2 linked regions of the Homo sapiens genome follow. The protein of the gene in region 1 purifies or fractionates together with the protein of each later gene. This does not show direct contact. Each region holds a gene or a part of one and is shown on either strand. Other genes may lie near its edges. The genes, in order: NARF and LEF1.

Region 1 (3,814 bases):
GCTGGGGCGACAGAGTGAGACTCCGTCTCAAAAAAAAGAATGTCATTTTACATGCAGTCTCATTTCACGCCCAGAAGGAACATTACATGTAAGCCTGGCCATTATCCCTGTTTTACTGAGTGAAGGGTGTTGGGAGAGGTTAAGGTCAGTCTACCCTTAGAAAGTACTAGTACCAGTTTATAAATGGAGAGTTGGCAATATGGCAGAAGCATATTTTTTCCTTAAGTTTAGTAGTCCTGACATGTTTAATCTGACAGGTGTTCTCCCGGTTGCCCTGTGTGCCAGTGCTGTGGGGACTGTGGGGCTTAGGGAGCAACAGGGCCTGAGACAAGCAGCCAAAGAGCTGGCCACAGGCAGAAGAGAGGTAGGGTGCATTGGAGCCCTGGAGGCAGCTGGGGCCAGTGCGCCTGAGTGGCCGACCCCAGGGGCCTCCCTCACCTGCCCTCTGGTTGTGTCGTTGTAGACAGATATCTAAGCCCTGTGAGCCTCGTTTCCTTATCAGAGGCCTGGGGAGTAGGGTTACCTCCCTCCCAGGACTGTGGTGAGGATGAGATAACGTGTGTACACAGCCTAAGTGGGCGCCCTGCCAGGTCAGTGATGGACACAGGGTGAGAGGAGTTGGGTTGGGGTTAATGGAGTGGACCCTGAAGAGTGGTCAGAATTCAGGGTGGGAGTGTAGGGAAGGGCACTGGCACACCAGGCAAGAGGAGGGTGTGGACAGACGTGCTCTAGGGAGAGACAGTGGCTCCCCTTGGCCAGGTCAATGACAGTGCAGAGCTGTGGAGACCGTGAGGGGGTGACTCAGGTGTTTGTTTTAGGGCAGGTGATGGAGGTAACCGACTTAAGCTGGCTAGAGTAGGGGAAGAATTGCAGGAAGCCACTTGGGTGGCAGCTTTGAGAGCCTAGGCAGAGGTGGTGGGCCTGGGCAAGTCTACCAGAGTGATAGAGACAGAACAGAGGACGTAGTGCAGGGAAGGGAGTGCAGTTTTAGCTCCACAGACACTGGGCCTTCTACGGTGTGTGAGTCTGGGGTTTGGTGAGAGCACTCCGCTGGAAGTGCAGGTGGCAGGGCTGCCCTGGGCTGAGTGAGGCCAGCAGGCCTGATAAAAGGGAACAGGACTTCTGTAGAATGCATCAGTGTGGAAGGCAGGAGGAATAAGAAGAAAGAATGTGAGGGGTGAGGAGGGAATCAGACCTGGACCATGAAAACTTATGGAAGGACTGGGTTATACACAGCATGTCTGGTGGCAAGGCAGGGAGGAGGCACTGCTGGGTGAGGGGGGCAGTTTGGTCATGGGCATCTCAGTGGGGATGGGCTGTGGAGGCACAATTCATGCAGCTATGGGCACCAGATGTTTGGAGTGGAGCTGTGGCTTTGACCCACTGGGAACTTGTTAGAAGCACAAACTCTTGAGCCCCATGCGGACCTCCTGAGTGCCCATCTGCAGCAGAACAAGATCCCAGGTTGAGTGGGCTGCACAGAGACATGGGGTCATGTGTAGGCAGGAGGCAGAGGTGACACCCGAGCTGCGGTTCGTAGCACGCTGTGGAAGGAGGAGGCACATCCATAGCCGTCTCCTGTCAAATCAAGTTTTAAAGAAAAACGAATGCATGGACTACCTGAGGAGCTTCTGTAATTTATTGACATTACTCCTGTAAGCTTCAGAGTATTCATATGTTCATCCACCAGTTATTTATTGAGCACTGTCTGTGTGCAGTACCTCTTGGAAGTGCTGAGGAACAAGAGAACAAGACAGTGTTCAAGCTCTCATGAGCTTACATTTTAGCGAGGAGGGACAGACTCCTGCTAGCAGTCAGCAACATAAGTACAGATGGGTGGGGAGGGAAGAGACGGGTGAGGGGGTGGTGCTGTTTTAGCAGGTGTTGGACATCGTCTCTGCTGAAGGCCACCCAGGGTGAGCCTGGGGCTCTTAGAGGTTGCTTCATGCAGAAGGATGGCGAGAGCAGCAAGGGCCAGTGGGGCTGGACGTGTGGAGACCAAGGGGGCTGTGATGGGACCCGGGCAGACAGGGGCCACTGGCTTTGCCCAGGCCCTCTGTGTGAGGGGCAGCTGTCTGAGCAGAGCAGAGGTGTGGTTTATGTTTTAGCAGATGTCGGGGAGCACAAGGGCCAGTCAGGAAGGAGAGGGTGGAGGGGATCAAAGAGTGACTCTACATCCAGGTCAGGATAAGCATCTTGTTACATGTCCGAGTGCAAACCCAGAGCCAGCACTGAGTTGTAAAGTTCTGAGCCTCAAGGGAGAGGCCAGGGCTGTGGGTGGCCTCAGGGAGCCGTGGGATGGTAAGAGGGGGCACAGAGCTAGAGGAGCAGTCAGAGGGCTGGATCACAGGCACCAAAGAGGAAGGGGTCTAGGAGGAAGGGGTCTAGCAGTGGGGTGAGCTTCCAGAACACAGGGGTCATTTACTTCCTACCACGTGACAGTGCTAGGGCTGGGTTCCACCCTTGTCATCTGCATGGTTCCCTAGTGTCATTGTGGGCTGGGCCCTGTGTCCTGTGTCCCTTCACCACCTTGAGCTGCTCAGTGGCAGAGACTGTCCTGCTTCCAGCCCCTTGAGCACCAGGCCTGGACCCTGGTATTATCTCCAATGTTTACTGTGAATTCTGTATATGGGTGTTACCCTCTCTAAAGAAGCACATTAAAGAGTATTTGTTGAATAATCATGCTGAAACGTCATCTTTCATAGAAGGGAGAATTCCACAAGTTGGCTGATGCCAAGATATTTTTGAGCGACTGCCTGGCATGTGACAGCTGTATGACTGCAGAGGAAGGAGTCCAACTTTCCCAGCAAAATGCCAAGGACTTCTTCCGCGTTCTGAACCTTAACAAGGTAAGGCATTCGGGGCATTTGCTGATGCTGGGGAGCTGACCTGGAGGAAGTGGAGGTGAGGCCTGGCTTCCTGCACAGAAGCCTCTGCTGGGACATCGGATGCACATCTCAGCCTTTTCCTGGTGTTGCTAACATCCTGCTTTGACCTTCCAAACCTCTCCATCAAGAGCAAAATCCCCGCACAATTTCCTGCTCCCTTAATAATGCTCAGGCAGTGGTGGGGGGCTGGCATCACCCCTCAGGCTCCTGTGGCTTAAGCGGGGCCTCTGCCTGGTGAGGTCAGGTAACACGGGTGTTGGTGATCATGCGGGCAGCACAGAGCCGGAGCTCCTGCTGTTCTGCCTCGGCTGCACGTTTTCGGACACGAGAGTTATGTTCTAATAGACCGATCAGCTTGGGGCAAGGCAGAGACACTCCAAGGAAGTAAAAATTCCCAAAGCTCCTTCCTTCAGCTCATCCCTGCAGACCTCCTATACAGAACGAGAGGTGCCACTTGTCTTTCCGTGAGACAGGTTGTATTAGTCCATTCTCACATTGCTACAAAGAACTACGTGACACTGGCTAATTTATAAAGCAGAGAGGTTTAATTGACTCACAGTTCCACAGGATCTACAGGAGACATGGCTGGGGAGGCCTCAGGGAACAACCATGGCGGAAGGGTGAAGGGGAAGCAAGCATGTCTTCACGTGGCAGCAGGAGAGAGCAAGTAAAGGGGGAGGTGCTGCACCCTTGTAAACAACCAGATCTTGTGAGGACTCACTCACTATCATGAGAAGAGCAAGTGGGAGATCCGCCCCCATGACCCAGTCACCTCCTGCCAGGCCCAGCCTTCAGTTTCACATGAGATTTGGGTGGGGACGCAGAGCCAAACCATATCACAGGTGAAAGAGAAAGAGACAAAGGCAGATGAGGCTGAAAAGCACTTCTTGGTTTCCATGCTGTCACCTCCACGGGAAGCACCGGCA
Region 2 (3,757 bases), on another chromosome or scaffold:
ACCTGGACCAAGCCTTTGAAAATCTGTGATGCAAAATTATAATGTAAATAGGAATCTGTGGGGTGCCCTCTCTCCCACCCCAGGCTCTGCTAGAGCCCTGTTTCTTTCTCCGTAGAAAGGCAGGGTCCTTCGTAGCTCTTTGATCCTCCTGCGTGCAAGATCCATACCTCTGTGGGCCTGGCACAGCGAACTGTGAAGTACTGAGGTACAGACAACTTCCATGGCCCTGCTGTGGCCCCATTCTCAAGCAGGGCTAACACCTCCAATCTAGAGCACCCTGCACTTCCGGCTCCACCAGTCTTCTTGTCCCTTCACTGCCTTACCTAAGGGTGCCTTCTCCTCCTCTCTTAAGCTGAGTACAAGTGATAATATAGTGATTAACACAATGCTGTAGTGTTTTCCTGTTAAACAGGGAATGGTTGATTTTCCAGGAGAATAGAAAATGAAATTGTCATTGGAGGACCTCCTCAGTTGAAATCATTCTGTGGCTGATTTCCTCCTATTTTGTTTTTTGTTGGTTGGTTGGTTTTTGCTTTTTCAGTAGCTACCCAGGTATACAAATAGCTTCTTTGCAGTTCTGATCATCTTTAGGGGCCGCATTGGGCATAATTGGAATAATAATACTAGCTAACCTGCTTGCAGGGCTTGCTCTGTGCTGTGCACTTTGTGAGCACTTTAAATATAGGAGCCAAACCTCTCTTTCCAAAAGCCTGAAGGGCAGGTGTCCTCGCAGTTCCCATTCCATAGATCACCATCCTTCCATGGAAAGTACTCTGTGGACTGTAACTTGCCATCTAGACTTTTGTATTCATTATTAAACTATGTCAAAGTTTCCTTTTATTTCTCTTTTACTTTCTTTTTCCATTGAAATGAAAGTGTACGATAATCCACCATTATTTAGAATGAGTTTCTAAAAGGAAACTTGTGCTTGTAACACGGATAGCACAATCACAAGCACAAAGTGTTGGGATTCATCTGAGGCTGTCAAGGGACCCAGGTTGAGAAGGTGCTTCCAGCATCGCTGCCACCAAAGGAAAGCAGCCTCCCCAAGTTCAAAGCAGCGGAAGCAGGTGCTCTCTGGAGTGAAGGAACGGAACTTTGCCATGCTTTTACTTTCCTTTTGTCTTTGTCTCATCTTGTTACAATGTTACATTTTACTTTTAATCACTTTTTAAAAAATCTCAGATCATTAAAGCTTTGAGGATGTGGGAGTTCTCTTATTTGAAAATCATTATCACCAATATCTGGCAACATTATTTTAACATATTTGCTGAGTGTCCTTTCCGAGGCTATCATTAGAGATCCTTGATGTTAGGAAGGAAAAAAAAATCTTGAAAATTGTAAGATCTTAAGGAAAAAGGGAGCGGTTTGTATCCTCTGGGCTGTGAGTGTGAGCGGACAGAGCACATAGCGTCACGGGAGTTGGCAGTGCGTTGGGTAATGTGATTATGTCTGTCCTATGTAGAATCATACAGTGGCTTCCCACAGTGGACCAAAAACACCAAACACTGCAGAATGACACATCTTTCCCTGATCTGGCTGTTGCCCGCCTTCCCTATTCATGTTTGCCTGTTTCCTACTGGTGTTTTTCAAACTTTTTTTTTGTTCTGTTTACCATGACCCAGAGTATTCACTACACTTCACATCATAACTCTGGGCATACGTATACATGGAACCAAAGTAAAAATGTCACTATATTAACTCTGTAGTGTACTCTCAGGATTTTTGACTGATAGGGCAATTCATTTTAGCCATCCCCAAATTAACAAAATGGATTAATTAAATGCAGAGGTTGTAAGACATATATGGTATGGAATAGAGGTTATAATCTTAAGGCCTACGGCAAATTCATATTAATAGCATTTCATTTGTTCCTTCTTGAGGTGGAAAACGAAGCTCATTCCCAACGTGCAAAGCCAAGGCAGCGACCCCAGGACCTCTTCTGGAGATGGAAGCTTGTTGAAAACCCAGACTGTCTCCACGGCCTGCCCAGTCGACCCCAAAGGAACACTGACATCAATTTTACCCTGAGGTCACTGCTAGAGACGCTGATCCATAAAGACAATCACTGCCAACCCCTCTTTCGTCTACTGCAAGAGCCAAGTTCCAAAATAAAGCATAAAAAGGTTTTTTAAAAGGAAATGTAAAAGCACATGAGAATGCTAGCAGGCTGTGGGGCAGCTGAGCAGCTTTTCTCCCCTCATATCTGCGTGCACTTCCCAGAGCATCTTGCATCCAAACCTGTAACCTTTCGGCAAGGACGGTAACTTGGCTGCATTTGCCTGTCATGCGCAACTGGAGCCAGCAACCAGCACATCCATCAGCACCCCAGTGGAGGAGTTCATGGAAGAGTTCCCTCTTTGTTTCTGCTTCATTTTTCTTTCTTTTCTTTTCTCCTAAAGCTTTTATTTAACAGTGCAAAAGGATCGTTTTTTTTTGCTTTTTTAAACTTGAATTTTTTTAATTTACACTTTTTAGTTTTAATTTTCTTGTATATTTTGCTAGCTATGAGCTTTTAAATAAAATTGAAAGTTCTGGAAAAGTTTGAAATAATGACATAAAAAGAAGCCTTCTTTTTCTGAGACAGCTTGTCTGGTAAGTGGCTTCTCTGTGAATTGCCTGTAACACATAGTGGCTTCTCCGCCCTTGTAAGGTGTTCAGTAGAGCTAAATAAATGTAATAGCCAAACCCACTCTGTTGGTAGCAATTGGCAGCCCTATTTCAGTTTATTTTTTCTTCTGTTTTCTTCTTTTCTTTTTTTAAACAGTAAACCTTAACAGATGCGTTCAGCAGACTGGTTTGCAGTGAATTTTCATTTCTTTCCTTATCACCCCCTTGTTGTAAAAAGCCCAGCACTTGAATTGTTATTACTTTAAATGTTCTGTATTTGTATCTGTTTTTATTAGCCAATTAGTGGGATTTTATGCCAGTTGTTAAAATGAGCATTGATGTACCCATTTTTTAAAAAAGCAAGGCACAGCCTTTGCCCAAAACTGTCATCCTAACGTTTGTCATTCCAGTTTGAGTTAATGTGCTGAGCATTTTTTTAAAAGAAGCTTTGTAATAAAACATTTTTAAAAATTGTCATTTTATTAAGAGTGAAGTTCCTGATAATCTAAAATTGCTAATGAACTGAATCCACAGGCCAGGGCAGAGCTGGTTTGTAGAGAGGAACAGTTTGTGTGAGAGGGGTGCTGCTGGTGCAGCCTTCTCCAGGGACAGGCCAGAACCGGCTGTAAATGGGCACCTTGCCCTGTCTCCTAGACATGCAGTCCTCAAAAGTACTTGTATGGCTTGGGCCTCTCCCTCCTTTTCCAGGTGGTATGAAACAGGGTCAAAGGAAAAAAGAGGGTTGCCAGGATTCAGATGGGAGTGAGTCCTTTCCTGAACACAGATCCTCATGGGCTCCCACCATCTGGTTGTCGTGCTCATTGAAAGTCCACAGGTACCGCCTCTCTTCATAGCTCATTGGTATTCAAACTGGGCTTCCACATTGTGGGGTCCCAGTGGAGAAGGTATGTCTTAACACCCCCACCCATCTCCCCAGTCAACATTTTCTAAGTCCTGAGCTGTATTTCATAATTTTTACCTTACTAGTACATGTTATAAGTTGGTATCTGATTAGGAAAAAGTATATTTAAATTTAAAAGAATATGTCATGGTCTTCCACGATGGTTTTCTATCCCTTGAGCTACTTTGAGAACCACTATCACTGGTCCAACTTAAACCTCTCTGCTGAAATTCTAGCTCGATTTCC

The links.
Region 2: the proteins of NARF (region 1) and LEF1 purify together in Homo sapiens (affinity purification with western blotting; 2 studies listed by BioGRID). This does not show direct contact.

Annotation. Positions count from the first base shown.
Region 1 is NC_000017.11:82,461,582-82,465,395, forward strand, and holds part of NARF (nuclear prelamin A recognition factor), read left to right. Parts: intron 1-2,705; coding exon 2,706-2,849; intron 2,850-3,814.
Region 2 is NC_000004.12:108,046,878-108,050,634, reverse strand, and holds the end of LEF1 (lymphoid enhancer-binding factor 1), read left to right. Parts: intron 1-1,883; coding exon of another isoform or gene 1,884-1,963; 3' UTR 1,964-3,087; downstream 3,088-3,757. UniProt on the Homo sapiens protein: Transcription factor that binds DNA in a sequence-specific manner. Participates in the Wnt signaling pathway. Activates transcription of target genes in the presence of CTNNB1 and EP300.